2 linked regions of the Homo sapiens genome follow. The protein of the gene in region 2 interacts with the protein of the main gene of each other region in a pairwise test. Each region holds a gene or a part of one and is shown on either strand. Other genes may lie near its edges.

The links. The genes of interacting proteins can lie anywhere in the genome.
Region 1: the proteins of NMT2 (region 2) and ACBD6 interact in binary tests that used the Homo sapiens proteins (3 or more experiments, as listed by UniProt).

Annotation. Positions count from the first base shown.
Region 1 is NC_000001.11:180,289,573-180,296,600, reverse strand, and holds part of ACBD6 (acyl-CoA-binding domain-containing protein 6), read left to right. Parts: intron 1-7,028. UniProt on the Homo sapiens protein: Binds long-chain acyl-coenzyme A molecules with a strong preference for unsaturated C18:1-CoA, lower affinity for unsaturated C20:4-CoA, and very weak affinity for saturated C16:0-CoA. Does not bind fatty acids. Plays a role in protein N-myristoylation.
Region 2 is NC_000010.11:15,109,670-15,116,697, reverse strand, and holds part of NMT2 (glycylpeptide N-tetradecanoyltransferase 2), read left to right. Parts: intron 1-3,734; coding exon 3,735-3,902; intron 3,903-4,911; exon of another isoform or gene 4,912-5,170; intron 5,171-6,858; coding exon 6,859-6,996; intron 6,997-7,028.

The DNA of each region.
Region 1 (7,028 bases), on a different chromosome or scaffold from region 2:
AAATTAGCCAGTCATGGTGGCACATGGCCAGTAATCTCACCTACTCAGGAGGCTGAGGTACGAGAATCGCTTGAGCCCAGGAGGCAAAGGTTGCAGGGAGCCAAGATCGCAACACTGCACTCCAACCTGGGCGACAGAGTGAAACTCTGTCTAATAGAAAAGAAAAAAAGAAAATCTGTTGTGTAGTATAGCCATCCTCATCAGTTATCTTTATCTTAGTTAGATCTTCTGGATAACTTGCTCTCACTTCTGCATCAGCACTTACTGCTTTACCTTGCACTTTTATTTTATGGAGACAACTTTCCTTCAACCTCATGAGTCAGCCTCTGCCAACTCCTAACTTTTCTTCTGCAGTTTCTTCATCTCTTTCAGTCTTCGTAGAATGAAAGAGCCAGAGCCTTGCTGTGGATTAGACTTTGGCTTCAGGGGATGTTGTGGCTGGTTTGATCTTCTACCCAGACCACTCAGACTTTTTCTAAATCAGCAATAAGGCTGTTTTGCTTTCCTGTCATTTGTATGTTCACTGGAATAGTGCTTTAATTTTCTTCAAGAACTTTTATTTGGCATTCACAAGTTGGCTGACTGGCACAAAAGCCTAGCTTTTGTCCTATGTTGGTTTTTGACATGCCTTCATTACTAAGCTTAATCATTTCTAGCTTTTGATTGAAAATAAGAGATGTGTGACTCTTCCTTTTACTTGAGTAAAAGGATTGGAGTTCATTGTAGGATTATTGGCCTAATTTCAATATTATTGTGTCTCAGGGAATAGGGAGACCCAAGGAGAGGGATAGACGAGGGATTGGCTGTTCCATGGTACAGTCAGAACACATAAAACATTGATTGATGAAATTCATATTATATGGGTGCAGTTCATGGCACCCCCAAAAAATTACAATAGTAACATCAAAGATCATTTATCATAGATCCTCACAACAGAAATAACAATAATGAAAAGTTTGAAATATTGTGAGAATCCCCACAGTGTGACACAGAGACACAAAATGAACAAATGCTGTTGGGAAAATGGCACCGATAGACTTGCTTAAATATAGAGTTGCCACAAATCTTTAATTTGAAAAAAAAAATGCATTATCTGTGATGCACAGTAAAGTTAAGCACAATAAAATAAGTTATGCCTATATAAAATATTTTGAACTGAATGAAAATGAAAACACTCTTGTCAAAACTTGTGGGATGCTTGGGAGGCTGAGGCAGGAGAATCGCTTAAGCCAGGCCAGGGAGGCAGAGGTTGCAGCAAGCCAAGATTGCACCACTGCACTTCAGCCTGGGCGACAGAGCAAGACTCCGCCTCAAAAAAAAAAAAAAAAATTGCAGGATGCAGCTAAACCAGTGCTTTAAAGGAAATTAAATACTATTAGAAAAGAAGAAAGATTTCATATCAGTGATCCAAGCTTCTATCTCAAAAAAAGAAGGGCAAATTAAGCCCAAAGTAAGTGTGAAACAATAAAGATCGGAGCAGAAATCATTGAAATAGAAAATCAGAAAACAGAAAATCAGTGAAATCAAAAACTGGTTGTTTGTAAAGATCAATAAAACATAGTCCTCTAGCCAGACCAAGGAAGAAAAAAAAGAGAAGAAACAGGCTGGATGCTGTGGCTCACACCTGTAATCCCAGCACTTTGGGAGACCAGTGCAGAAGGATCACTTGAGACTAAGAGTTCGAGACCCAGCCTGGGCAACATAGCAAGACCCCATCTCTACAACAAATGTTTTAAAACATGCCAGGCATAGTTGTTTGAGCCTGTAAGTCCCAGCTACTCAGGAGGCTGAGGCAGGAGGATCACTCATGCCCAGGAGTTCCAGGATGCAGTGAGTTATGATTGTGCCACCGCACTCCAGCCTGAGTAACAAAGTGAGATGTGACACCAAAAAAAAAAACAAAAGGCAAATTACCAGTTTCAGGAATGAAAGGATATCAGTACATATCCTAAAGATATTATAAAGCAAATAAGGAAACATTATACACAATTTTATACCAATGAAATAGATAACTTAAATGAAATGGACAAATTTATTATTATTATTATTATATATTTTTTTAAGTCAGGGTCTCAGTCACCCAGGCTGGAGTGCAGTGGTGCGATCTCAGCCTGCTCACACTTCAGGCTCCACCTCCCAGGTTCAAGCGATTCTCCTGCCTCAGCCTCCGGAGTAGCTGGTATTATAGGAATGCGCCACCATGCCCGGCTAATTTTTGTAGTTTAGTACAGACAGGGTTTCACCATGTTGCCCAGGCTGGTCTCAAACTCCTGACCTCAGGCAATCTGCCTGCCTTGGCCTCCCAAAATGCTACTGCTAGGATTACAGGCAAGAGCCACCGCACCTGGCCAGGACAAATTTTTTTAAAGACACAAACTACCAAAGTTTTCTGAAAAAGAAATAGAAAGCCAGGTGTGGTGGCTCACACCTGTGATCCCAGCACTTTGGGAGGCTGGGGCGGGCGGATCACCTGAGGTCAGGAGTTCGAGATCAGCCTGGCCAACATGGTGAAACCCTGTCTCTACTACATACACAAAAATTAGCCAGATGTGGTGGTGCGCACCTGTAATCCCAGCTGCTCGGGAGCCTGAAGCAGGAGAATCACTTGAACCCGGGAGGCGGAGATTTCACTGAGCCAAGATCGTGCCACTGCACTCCAGCCTGGGCAACAGAGCCAGACTTCATCTCAAAAAAAAAAGGAAATAGAAGTGCATGCCTTTAGTCCCAGCTGGGAGGCTTGGGGAAGAGGATCACTTGGAGCCAGGAGTTCAACACTGCACTGCACTATGATCATGCTTGTGAATAGCCACTACATCTAGCTAGGGCAACATAGCCTGACTCCATCTTAAAAAAAAACAAAAATAAAAAATAGAAAATCTGGATAGCTCTATATTTATAAAAGAGATTGAATTTGTAGCTAGAAACTTTCCCACAAGATTTCCAGGCCTTGATTACTTCACTGGTGAATTCTACTGAGTATTTAAGGATGAAATTGGCCAGGCACAGTGGCTCATGCCTATAATCCTAGCACTTTGAGAGGTGAGGCAGCCAGATCACCTGAGGTCAGGAGTTTGAGACTAGCCTGGCCAATGTGGCAAAACCCCGTCTCTACTAAAAATACAAAAATTAGCTGGGTGTGGTGGTGGGTGCCTGTAATCTCAGCTACTCAGGAGGCTGAGGTAGGAGAATTGCTTGAACCCAGGAGGTAGAGGTTGCAGTGAGCCAAGATCATGCCATTTGCACCATTGCACTCCAGCCTGGGCAACAGAGTGAGACTTTGTCTCAAAAAAAAAAAAAAAAAAAAAATTCTACACACAAACACTTCCAGAAAATAGAAGGGGAGGGAGCACTGCCCAGCTCATTCTGTGAAACCAGAATTACCCTGATAACCAAATCCAGACAAAGACCTTAGAGGAAAAGAAAACAACAGGCCAGTATTCCTTATGAACATAGATGCAAAAATGTTTAATAAGATGTTAGCAAATTGAACCTAGTAAATACAAAAAGGTTAATAAATTTTGTGCAAGTGTGTTTATCCTAGGAATGCAAGGTTTGTTTGGCAATTGAGAACCATAGTATTTCACCATATGAACAGATCAAAAAAGCAAAATGTGATTTTATCAATTTATGTAGAAAAGGCTGACAAAATTCAACTTCCCTTCATGATTAAAACAACAACAACAACAAAAACTCACAACAAAATAGAAATAGGAAATAGTAGGGAATTTCTTTAGCCTGAGAAAATCGACAGTTAATATCGTCCTTGATGATGAAAGGCTGAACACTTTCCCTCTAAGACTGTGGACAAAGATATCCACTCTCTCCACTTTGATCCAACATTGTATTAAAAGTTCTAGCCAATGCATTAAGGCAAGAAAAAGAAATGAAAGCCACATAGATTTAAAAAGAAGAAATAAAACTTCCTTTTCTCGTAGGTGATGTGTCCATCTATGTATAAGACCCCAAGAATCTATTAAAAAAAAAAAACCTAGAATAAGTGAGTTCACCAAGTTCACAGGATGTAAAATCAATATACAAACATGAAAAGTATTCCTATATACTAGTAATGAACAATTGAAAATTAAAATTCGAAAACACCAGGGATAGTATACAAATCTTAATTGTTTTTCTTTATGCTTACAGTAAATTGAATTTTTAAAAGATATTATTTGCAGTAGCCTCAAAAACATGAAATTCTTAGGGATACATCAAACAAAATAAGAGTAAGATTTGTATGTGTATAATTCCTAAATATTATCGAAATTAAGGAAAATTTAAATGGAAAGAGATACCATTGTTCATGGATCAAAAGACTCAGTATTGTTCAGCTGTCCATTCTTTCCAAATTGATTCATAGATTCAGCGGGGTCCCAATCAGAATCCCAGCAGGATCTTTGTAAAAACTTATAAGTTGATTCTAAAATTTATATGGAAAAGCAAAGGACCTAGAATAATCAAAACAACTTTGAAAAAGAATAAAGTTGGAGGCCCCACACTGGTTTCAGGACTTACTATAAAGTACAGAAATCAAGCCAATGTTGTATTGGTATAAGAATAGGTATATAGATCAAAGGAACATGATAGATAACCTAGAAATAGATCCAATCACAAATGGTCAGCTGATTTTTGACAAAAATGCCAACATAAAATTCAGTGGAGGGAAGACTAGCCTTTTCAACGTATAGAGCTGTAACAATTGGACATCAAAATGCAAAACAAAACAAAAAGGTGAGCCTGAAGCCTACTCAAAAATTAACTGGGAAGGTAAGATCTTAGATGTATATGTAAGAGGAATAATGATAAAGAACTAGAAGAATATCTTTGTGATCTTGGTGTAGGCAAAGTTTTTTTTAGATGGAACACAAGCACAAACTATAAAAGAAAAAATAAATTGCACTTTATCAAAATTTAAAAATTCCACTCTTCAAGATACTCTTAAAAAAAATGAGAAGTCATATACTGGGAGAAAATATTTATAAAACATATATTTGGAAAAAAAAATTTTGTGTCCACAACATATAAAGACCTCTTATAAGAAAATGACAACCTTATTAACAAATGAACAAAAGATTTGAACAGATAAATCACCAAAGATAGATAGTTGGCAGATAAGCACATGAGAAATGTTCATTGTTAGACATTAGGGAAGTACAGATTAGAAATCACAATGAAAAGCCACCATAGACCTAACTAGAATGGCTAAAAAATATTTTTAATAATAGTAAAGTGCTGGTAAGGGTGCAAAGGAACTGGAATTTATACTTATTGGTGTGAGTGAAAACTTTAGAAAAGTTTGGTAGTTTCCTGGAAAGTTAAACATTCACTTGCCATATGACTCAGCAATTCTACTTCTAGATATTTACCCACAAGCTGTGAAAACATAAAACAGGACAACACAAAGACCTTTACCCAACTGTTCGTAAGATCCCTGTTCATAATGCCAAAAATTGGAAGCAGCCCAGATGACTGCATACATGCATACAGTAGAATACTACTCAGCAATCAAAAGGAAAGAACTGATACTTGAAGCAATGTGGATGGATCACAAAAGCAACATGCTAAGTGAAAGAGACCAGATACAAAAGACTATGCTATATGATTTCTATTTCTGGAAAAAGACAAAACTATAGGGACAGAAATCAGATCGGTGCTTGCCAAATTATGCCACTCCACTCCTCATAAATGCCTGTGGATCACTTGACAAAACTCAGACTTCTTAGTGTGACCGATTCAAGGCCCTAGATAACTTGACTTCAATCCAACCTCTGTACTTTCAACTCTTTGTACTGCTTCCCTGAGCCAGCAGAGACAGTTCTCCAGCATTCCTTGTCATGCCTCTCCTAGTGGTATTTTCGCATTCTGCAATGCCTTTCCTTCTCAGAAATTTTGCTCGATCCTTCAAAGCTCATCTTACATCTTACTACCAATTTGTAGTGTTTCCTGATCCCTCAGTCTCCTCCTTCCTCCCTGCCTTTGCAGTGTATGTATTTCTGCCACATTTCTTATTCATTCTTTTGTGTTAGAATTGGTTGTTTACATATTTACAATCCATTCTGAATAGCAGGAATCTTACCTGTATTCCTGACTGGACTGGTACAGTATGTGCTCAATAAAATGGCTATAGGGCCGGGTGCAGTGGTGTATGCCTGTAATCCCAGCACTTTGGGAGGCCAAGGCGGGAGGATTGCCTGAGCCTAGTAGTTTGAGACCAGCCTGGGCAACAAAGTGAGACTCCCAAAGTGAGAGCCAAGCATGGTAGCACACACCTATATAGTTATAACTACTCAGGAAGCTGAGGTGGGAGGATTTGCTTGAGCCCAGAAGGTCAAGGCTGCAGTGAGCCATGATCTCGCCACTGCACTCCAGGTTGGGAGACAGAGCCAGACCCTGTCTCAAAAAGTCCGTGAAATTCAGCTCCATACCCTTTCTCTTGAAACAAATGAGCAACAACAACAACAAAAACCCACACACTGTGTTGTGTGATAATCATGCTGCAAAAGAGTATATAAAATGTATATGAAGAATTTAAACAAAGCTTTTAAAAATTTACCCACTACTTAGCTTAAGAAATAGAACATCACCAATATCTTTGAACCTCCTGTGCATGCCTCTCAATCATATGGCCTTCCCTAGTGGTAATCTTTGAGAGATTACCACTATCCCAAATTTTATATTAATTAATGATTTCCTTTGTAGTTTCAGTACATATTTGTATGTCTGAATCATATTCTTTAGTTTTACCGGTTTGCAAAATTTTGTTTAAATGAAATGATATCATATGTATTCTTCTCACTTGTTTTTTTCCCTTCAACATTATGTTTTGGAGATAAACCCATGTTGTGTGAAGCTATAGTTCATTAGTTTCCAGTGTTCTACAGGATTTCATTGTACAAGTGATCAATACTTTATTTATATGTTACCATTAATGAGCGTTTGGGCTGTTTACATTTGGGGTCTGCTGTGTACATGCTTGCAAATATCTCCTGGAGAACATATGCAAAAGTATATAACTAGAAGTAGAATTACTA
Region 2 (7,028 bases):
CTCTTTCTTTGTTTTTGTCCATATTGGTAGACTTGTATCATTTTATTGATTTGTTTCCCAGAGAACCAGACTTTTGTTGGATATTCCCTGTTGTCTTCCTGTTTTCAGTGTCATTGATTTCTACCCTCGTGTTTATTGTTTCCTTCTGTCTGCTTGCTTTGGGTTTATTTTGCTCTTCTTTTCTAGTTCCTTGAGGGAAGAACTTACTGACTTGAGACCTTTCCCTGTTACTAGTAAGCATTTAGTTCTATCAGTTTCCCTCTCTGCACTGCTTTAGCTATTTCTGACGTATTTTGGTATGTTGTATCTTCGTTGTCATTCACGTCTATGTATTTTTTGGTTTCGTTTGAGGCTTCCTCTTTAGCCCACCCCTACTTAGAATTGTGCTGTTCAATTTTGCTGTGTTTAGAGATTTTCTGTTGTCTCCCTATTACAGATTTCTAGTTTGATTCAATTATGGTTAAAGAACACACACTGTATGGTTTTGATTATTTTAAGGCTCTTGAGGTTTGTTTTATTACTCGGGATATGGACTGTCTTGATGGATATTCCATGGGTGCATGAAACGTGTATACCACTACGGTTGTGTGGAGTGTTCTTTGTATGGCAATTGCATCATGTTGATTAATTGAGTTATTCAGCTCTTCTGTTTCCATGCTGATTTTCTGTCTAGCAGTTCTATCACTTGATGAGAGGGGCATGGAAGTCCCCAGCTGTAATTGTGGATTTGTCTATTTCTCCTTCCAACACTGTCAGTTTTTCTTGATTTCTTCTGGGCCTCTTGTTTGATACTCACATGTATATTAGGGTCTTTGTGTCTCCCTAGTGGATTGATCTTTTTATCATAATGTAATACCTCTCTTTCTAATAATTTTCCTTGCTCTGGAGTATACTTTATTGTATATTACTGTGACCAGACCTGCTTTTAAAAATTGTTTGGACTTTTTCCATCCTTTTACTTTCAAACTATTGATGTTATTGAATTTGAAGTGAGTTTCTTGGAAACAGCCTATAGCTGGGTCATGTTTCTTTACCCACACTACTGATGTTTCTTTTGATTGGTGTATTTAGACCACTTACATAAAAGGTGATTATTGGTATGGTAGAGCTTAAGTCTACCATTTGATTATTTGGTTTCTTTATGTTTCTTCTGGTTCTTGTTCCTCTGTTTCTTTTTTCTTGCCTTGCTGTGGATTACTTGAATATATTTTAGGATACTGTTTTATTTATAGTACCTTTGGGTGTATTTGTATAGTTTTTATGATGGTTGATGTGAGTATTACAATATATATATGTGACTTATAGTCGATTGGTAACAACATTTATTACTTTGAGTCACCTTACTTTTATTTAGGTCACTTTACCTTTTTCATTTTTAAATATTGTTGTCTTAAATATCAGACAGTATTATGATTTTTGTTTTAATCATCAAGTATGATTTGTAACACTGATTAATAATGATGCTTGAGGAGAAGCATAATTTATTATATGTAGCCCAAATTTCTACTCTATTATTCTTCCCTCCTTCCTGATGCTTCAAGATTCCTTCTTTTATTATTTCCTTTCTATTTGAAGAAATTCCTTTAGCCAGTCTCAGGGTATGTCTGCTAGTGACACATTCTTTTGGTTTCCATTTGTGTGAGACTACCTCTGTTTTTAGATTTAGTTTCCCAATTTTTTTTTTTAATTTTTTTTGGAGACAGTGTCTTGCTCTGTCACCCAGGCTGGAGTACAATGGTGCAATCTCTGCTCACTGCAACCTCCGCCTCTTGGGTTCAAGCAATTCTTGTGCTCAGCCTCCTGTGTAGCTGGAACTACAGGCGCATGCCACCACACCCTGCTAATGTTTTGTATTTTAGTAGAGACGGGGTTTCACCACGTTGGCCAGGCTGGTCTCGAACTTCTGAGCTCAGAAAATCCACCCACTTTGGCCTCCCCAAGTGCTGAGATTACAGGCATGAGCCACCATGCCCAGCCCTAGTTTGCTAATATTTTACTTAGGATCTTCTATACTCACTACTGAGGTTGGCCATTAATTTCCCCTTCTTACCCTGTCCTTGTCCTGTCTTGATACCAAAGTTAGAATGAGCTGAAGAGCTTGTCCTCTCTTTTCTCTGGAACAGTGTATGTAATAATAGGGATTACTTGTTCCTTGAAAGTTGTTAGAAGTTGCTTATAAGCCATCTAGACATGGTGCCATGGTGGGTTTTGTTGTGAGCGGGGTTTTTTTGTTTTGTTTTGTTTTGTTTTGTTTTTTATCAGTCTTTACAATTGATTGGGTGTGAGGGACAATGGAAAGATCATCCCACTCTTCCCCAACAGTTGGTGATTCTCTGGTCATTTTAACAGCAAGAGAGGAAACAGTAATTTTACCAGCAATATGAATGTGAAGAAGTAGTTTTCTGAAAGCAGATGATGAAAATGGGGTGGGGAACCTAATCAGGTTCTGCAGGTGCCTGCAGTAATTCAGCGTATGAGATGGATATGAGAAATTCTTAGAAGAATCTAAAATCCTTATTAAACCTGAAGGTTGAATTCATCTCCAATACTGAGCTGCTAATATAGAGCAGTAGGGAATCACTGTAGATTAACCCCTTTAGTTTCTTGCTGGCTGAAGAAAGGTCTAATGACTCGGAAGCCTTTGAAAACCAAAGCATACATCCTTCTGGAATTTCCTTTTCTGCTGAAAGAAATACTAGCAGTGGCATGTGTGTGGTCCAGCCTCTTCAGCCGCACGATTCAAACACATCATATTCTAAAAGTCAGCAAGGCCACCACAGCTAATTACAACAACCCGAACAATACTGGCTAATTTCTTGTATTGGAAGCTTTGCCAGTGATGATGAAATGAATGTCATCCATTGTATCCCTTATTTTTGATAGCTGCAAAATTCTCCAGTTGTTCACATGTGTATATTTTGGTGCAGTAGTAAGACCTTTCACAAGCTTGCGAACTCTTCCAAACAGCTTCCAGACTCTACCCAACCTTACTTAGGCCTGATATAATTCTTTCTGTGTGCTAAGACAGTGTGAGATAGTACACAGTATCTTTTAGTTGGAGAAGGCAGCCCTCTAATCCTTAAAGCTTTTATTTCTGCAAAAACAATGAATCTGCTTTTATCACTGTTCCCTTAGTCTAAAGAATTGACTCATTTGTCAGCCTGAGGGAAGCTTTCCTTTTAGGACATTCTGCTTCTATCTTTCTTTCTTTTTTTTTTTTTTTTTTTTTTTTTTGAGTCTCATCCTGTCGCCCAGGCTGGAGTGCAGTGACACAATCTTGGCTCACTGCAACCTCCGCCTCTGGGGTTCAAGCGATTCTCCAGCCTCAGCCTCCCAAGTAGCTGGGATTACAGGTGTGCGCCACCACACCTGGCTAAGTTTTCATATCTTTAGTAGAGATGGGGTTTCACCATGTTGGTCAGGCTGGTCTCGAACTCCTGACCTCATGATCCACACGCCTCATCCTCCCAAAGTGCTGGGATTACAGGCATGACATTCTGCTTCCTAAGAACTTTGTGCAAATCACCAATGGGCACTTAGGCTGAAGTCCCAACTCCAGGCCCTTCTTGGCCTCTACACAGCACAATATAAGGGGCCCCAAATTGGACTGCCGAGAAAGAAGTGTGACTTACTGCTTTTCGTTCTCTGGGGCAAGGGAGAGAACAGAGTTAGTGGAAATGCACGTATGCAGTTGGTTCAAGGAGATCTCTGTCTGACAGCACTTTTGCTCCTAGAGCCCCAACGGTAAACTGACTGATTTCCTGAGCTTCTATACGCTCCCCTCCACGGTGATGCACCACCCTGCTCACAAGAGCCTCAAAGCCGCCTACTCATTCTACAACATCCACACAGAGACGCCCCTGCTGGACCTCATGAGCGACGCGCTCATCCTGGCTAAATCGGTAAGCCACTCCTTCCTGTTCACGCCGTTTGGTTCTCCAAATGTCTGTGCCAAACTATAGAAGACATCTTACTGTGTTTTCTTCCACACAGGTGGAATTTATGCGAGACTTTAAAAAAACTATTGATCATCAGTCAAAGGAAGAATTTTGATAAGAGTTTCTTTTGAAACTTTAGAGGCTATTTTCATCATTAATTTTATGGCAGTTTAACAAAAAAGACAAAATGTACAAATTATAAATGTTTAATCCTTATATAAGAATATATAAGGCTGGGCATGGTGGCTCAGGCTTGTAATCCCAACACTTTGGGAGGCCGAGATGGGTGGATCACCTGAGGTTAGGAGTTTAAGACCAGCCTGGTTAATATGGTGAAACCTCGTCTCTACTAAAAATACAAAAGTTAGCCAGGCTTCGTGGTGTGTGCCTGTAATCCCAGCTACTCGGGAGGCTGAGGCAGGAGAATTGCTTGAACCTGGGAGGCAGAGGTTGCAATGGAGCTGAGATTGCACCACTGCACTCCAGCCTGGGTGACAGAAACTGTCTCAAAAAAAAAAAAAAAAAAAAAAAAAAAAAAAAAAATATATATATATATATATATATATATATATATATATATATATAAAGCCCATATCTTAGGAAGTAATATAAGGAAAATATTAATACATGAGTGAATATTTTTGTTGAGTGAATAACTAGCAGCAATTTTTTTATTCAACCAAATAGTCTCTGAATTTTAAAATTAAAGGAATGAAATTCAAAATTTAATTGTAGCCAGTCTACATGGTGAAACCCTGTCTCTACTAAAAATACAAAAATTAGCAGGGTGTGATAGCACACACCTGTAATCCCAGCTACTCGGGAGGCTGAGGCAAGAGGATTACTTGAACCTGGGAGTTGGCGGTTGCAGTGAGCCGAGATTGCACCATTGCATTCCAGCCTGGGCCACAGAGTGAGACCCTGTCTCAAATTAATTAATTAATTAAAATAAAATAAAATAAAAATCTCTTACCTGTGCCTTTGGATCCCCAAGTCAACATCATCCTCAGATTGTCTGCTTTTTTTCAACACTTCCCAAATATGGCCAGTAATTAGTTATTTAAGGTAAAAACCCTGAGAAATAAAAATAAAAAGTGCTTCTTCTATATCACATTTTGCATAGTATTATTGTCTGACATTTTAAAGAAATTTAATTTTTTACCATTAAAATTTTACATAAATATATTTCCCATTATCAGCCCAAAGCAAACATACTATTTTTTTATACTTTTTTTTTTTTTTTTTTTTTTGAGATGAGTCTTGCTGTGTTACCCAGGCTGGAGTGCAGTGGCACAGTCTCGGCTCACTGCAACCTCTGCTTCCCATGTTCAAGTGATTCTCTTGTCTCAGCCTCCAGAGTAGCTGGGACTATAGGTGTGTGCCACCACACCTGGCTAATTTTTGTATTTTTAGTAGAGACAGGGTTTCATCATATTGACCCGGCTGGTCTCGAACTCCTGACCTCAGGTGATCCACCTGCTGCGGCCTCCCAAAGTGCGGGGATTACAGGCGTGAGCCACCACGCCCGGCCTGCATACTATTTAAAGTCTTTACAACTTTGGTCCCTGGGCAATAGCTTCAGCCAAGGTAGGACTTAGAAAGGCTAATAATTAATAATCCTGGAGATGAAACCATCTTGACAACTGTTCCCTTCTAAAACAAGAACGAGGCTGGGTGCAGTGGCTCATGCCTGTAATCCCAGCACTTTGGAAGGCCAAGGCAGGTGGATCACTTGAGGTCGGAGTTCAAGACCAGCCTGGCCAACACGGTGAAACCCGGTCTCTACTAAAAATACAAAGAAATTAGCTGGGCATGGAGGTGCACACCTGTAATGCCAGCTACTAGGAAGTTTGAGGCAGGAGAATTGCTTAAATCTGGGAGGTGGAGGTTGCAGTGAGCCGACATCATGCCACTGTATTCCAGCCTGGATGACAGAGTGAGACTCCATCTCAAAAAAATTTAAAAATAAATAAATAAAACATAAATAAAATATTTTCTGAAATCTTCATAAGTAATTTTATGCCAGTGACAGCCATCATACTACATTTTTAACATTTTTGGGATTCAGCGTTTCTGAATTTTCATGCTGACTTCATTGGATTCACTATAGTTTGTTTGTTTTTTGAGACAGGCGCTCACTCTGTTGCTCAGGTTTAAGTGCACTGGCACAATCACAGCTCACTGCAGCCTCGACCTCTTCGGCTTATGCAATCCTGCCTCAGCCTCCTGTGTAGCTGGGTCCACAGGCACACACCACCATGCCGAGTCAATCTTTTTATTTTTGTAGAGACAATGTCCTGTACCTACACCTACACCTATACCTACAGCCTATGCCCAGGCTGGTTTCAAATTCCTGGGCTCCAGTGAGCCTCCCACCTTGGCCTCCCAAAGTGCTGGGATTACAGGCGTGAGCCACCACATCCAGCCACACTGCTAGTTTTATAAGACAATTTTCAACTGAATTCTTCCTCTTTTTAAAGAAAGAAAAAAAAAAAGTCTCACTCTGTCGCTCAGGCTGGAGTGCCGTGGCACAATCTCGGCTCACTGCCACCTCTACCTCCCAGGCTCAAGCAGTTCTCCTGCCTCAGCCTCCTGAGTAGCTGGGACTGCAGGTGTGCGCCACCACATCTGGCTTATTTTTGTTATTTTTAGTAGAGATGGGGTTTCGCCATGTTGGTCAGGCTGGTCTCGAACTCCTGACCTCAAGTGATCCACCCACCTCAGCCTACCAAAGTGCTGGGATTATAGGCATGAGCCACAGCATCCGGCCCTGAATTCTTAACCTATGCTATATATCACGGACGTTAAATCCTATTAGAAATGCATATTCGAGCTATTAGTAGAATTGTTAAACTGAGATATGTAATACAGAAAACACTAGTCCTTTGTTTTAAATTTTAAATCTTTTTTAAATTGGCAGAAAGGATTTGATGTATTCAATGCACTGGATTTGATGGAAAATAAGACATTCTTGGAAAAACTCAAGTTTGGTATAGGAGATGGCAATTTGCAGTATTACCTGTACAATTGGAGGTGTCCAGGTACAGATTCTGAAAAGGTAAGTGAAATGGATATAGCCCTTGTAAACTC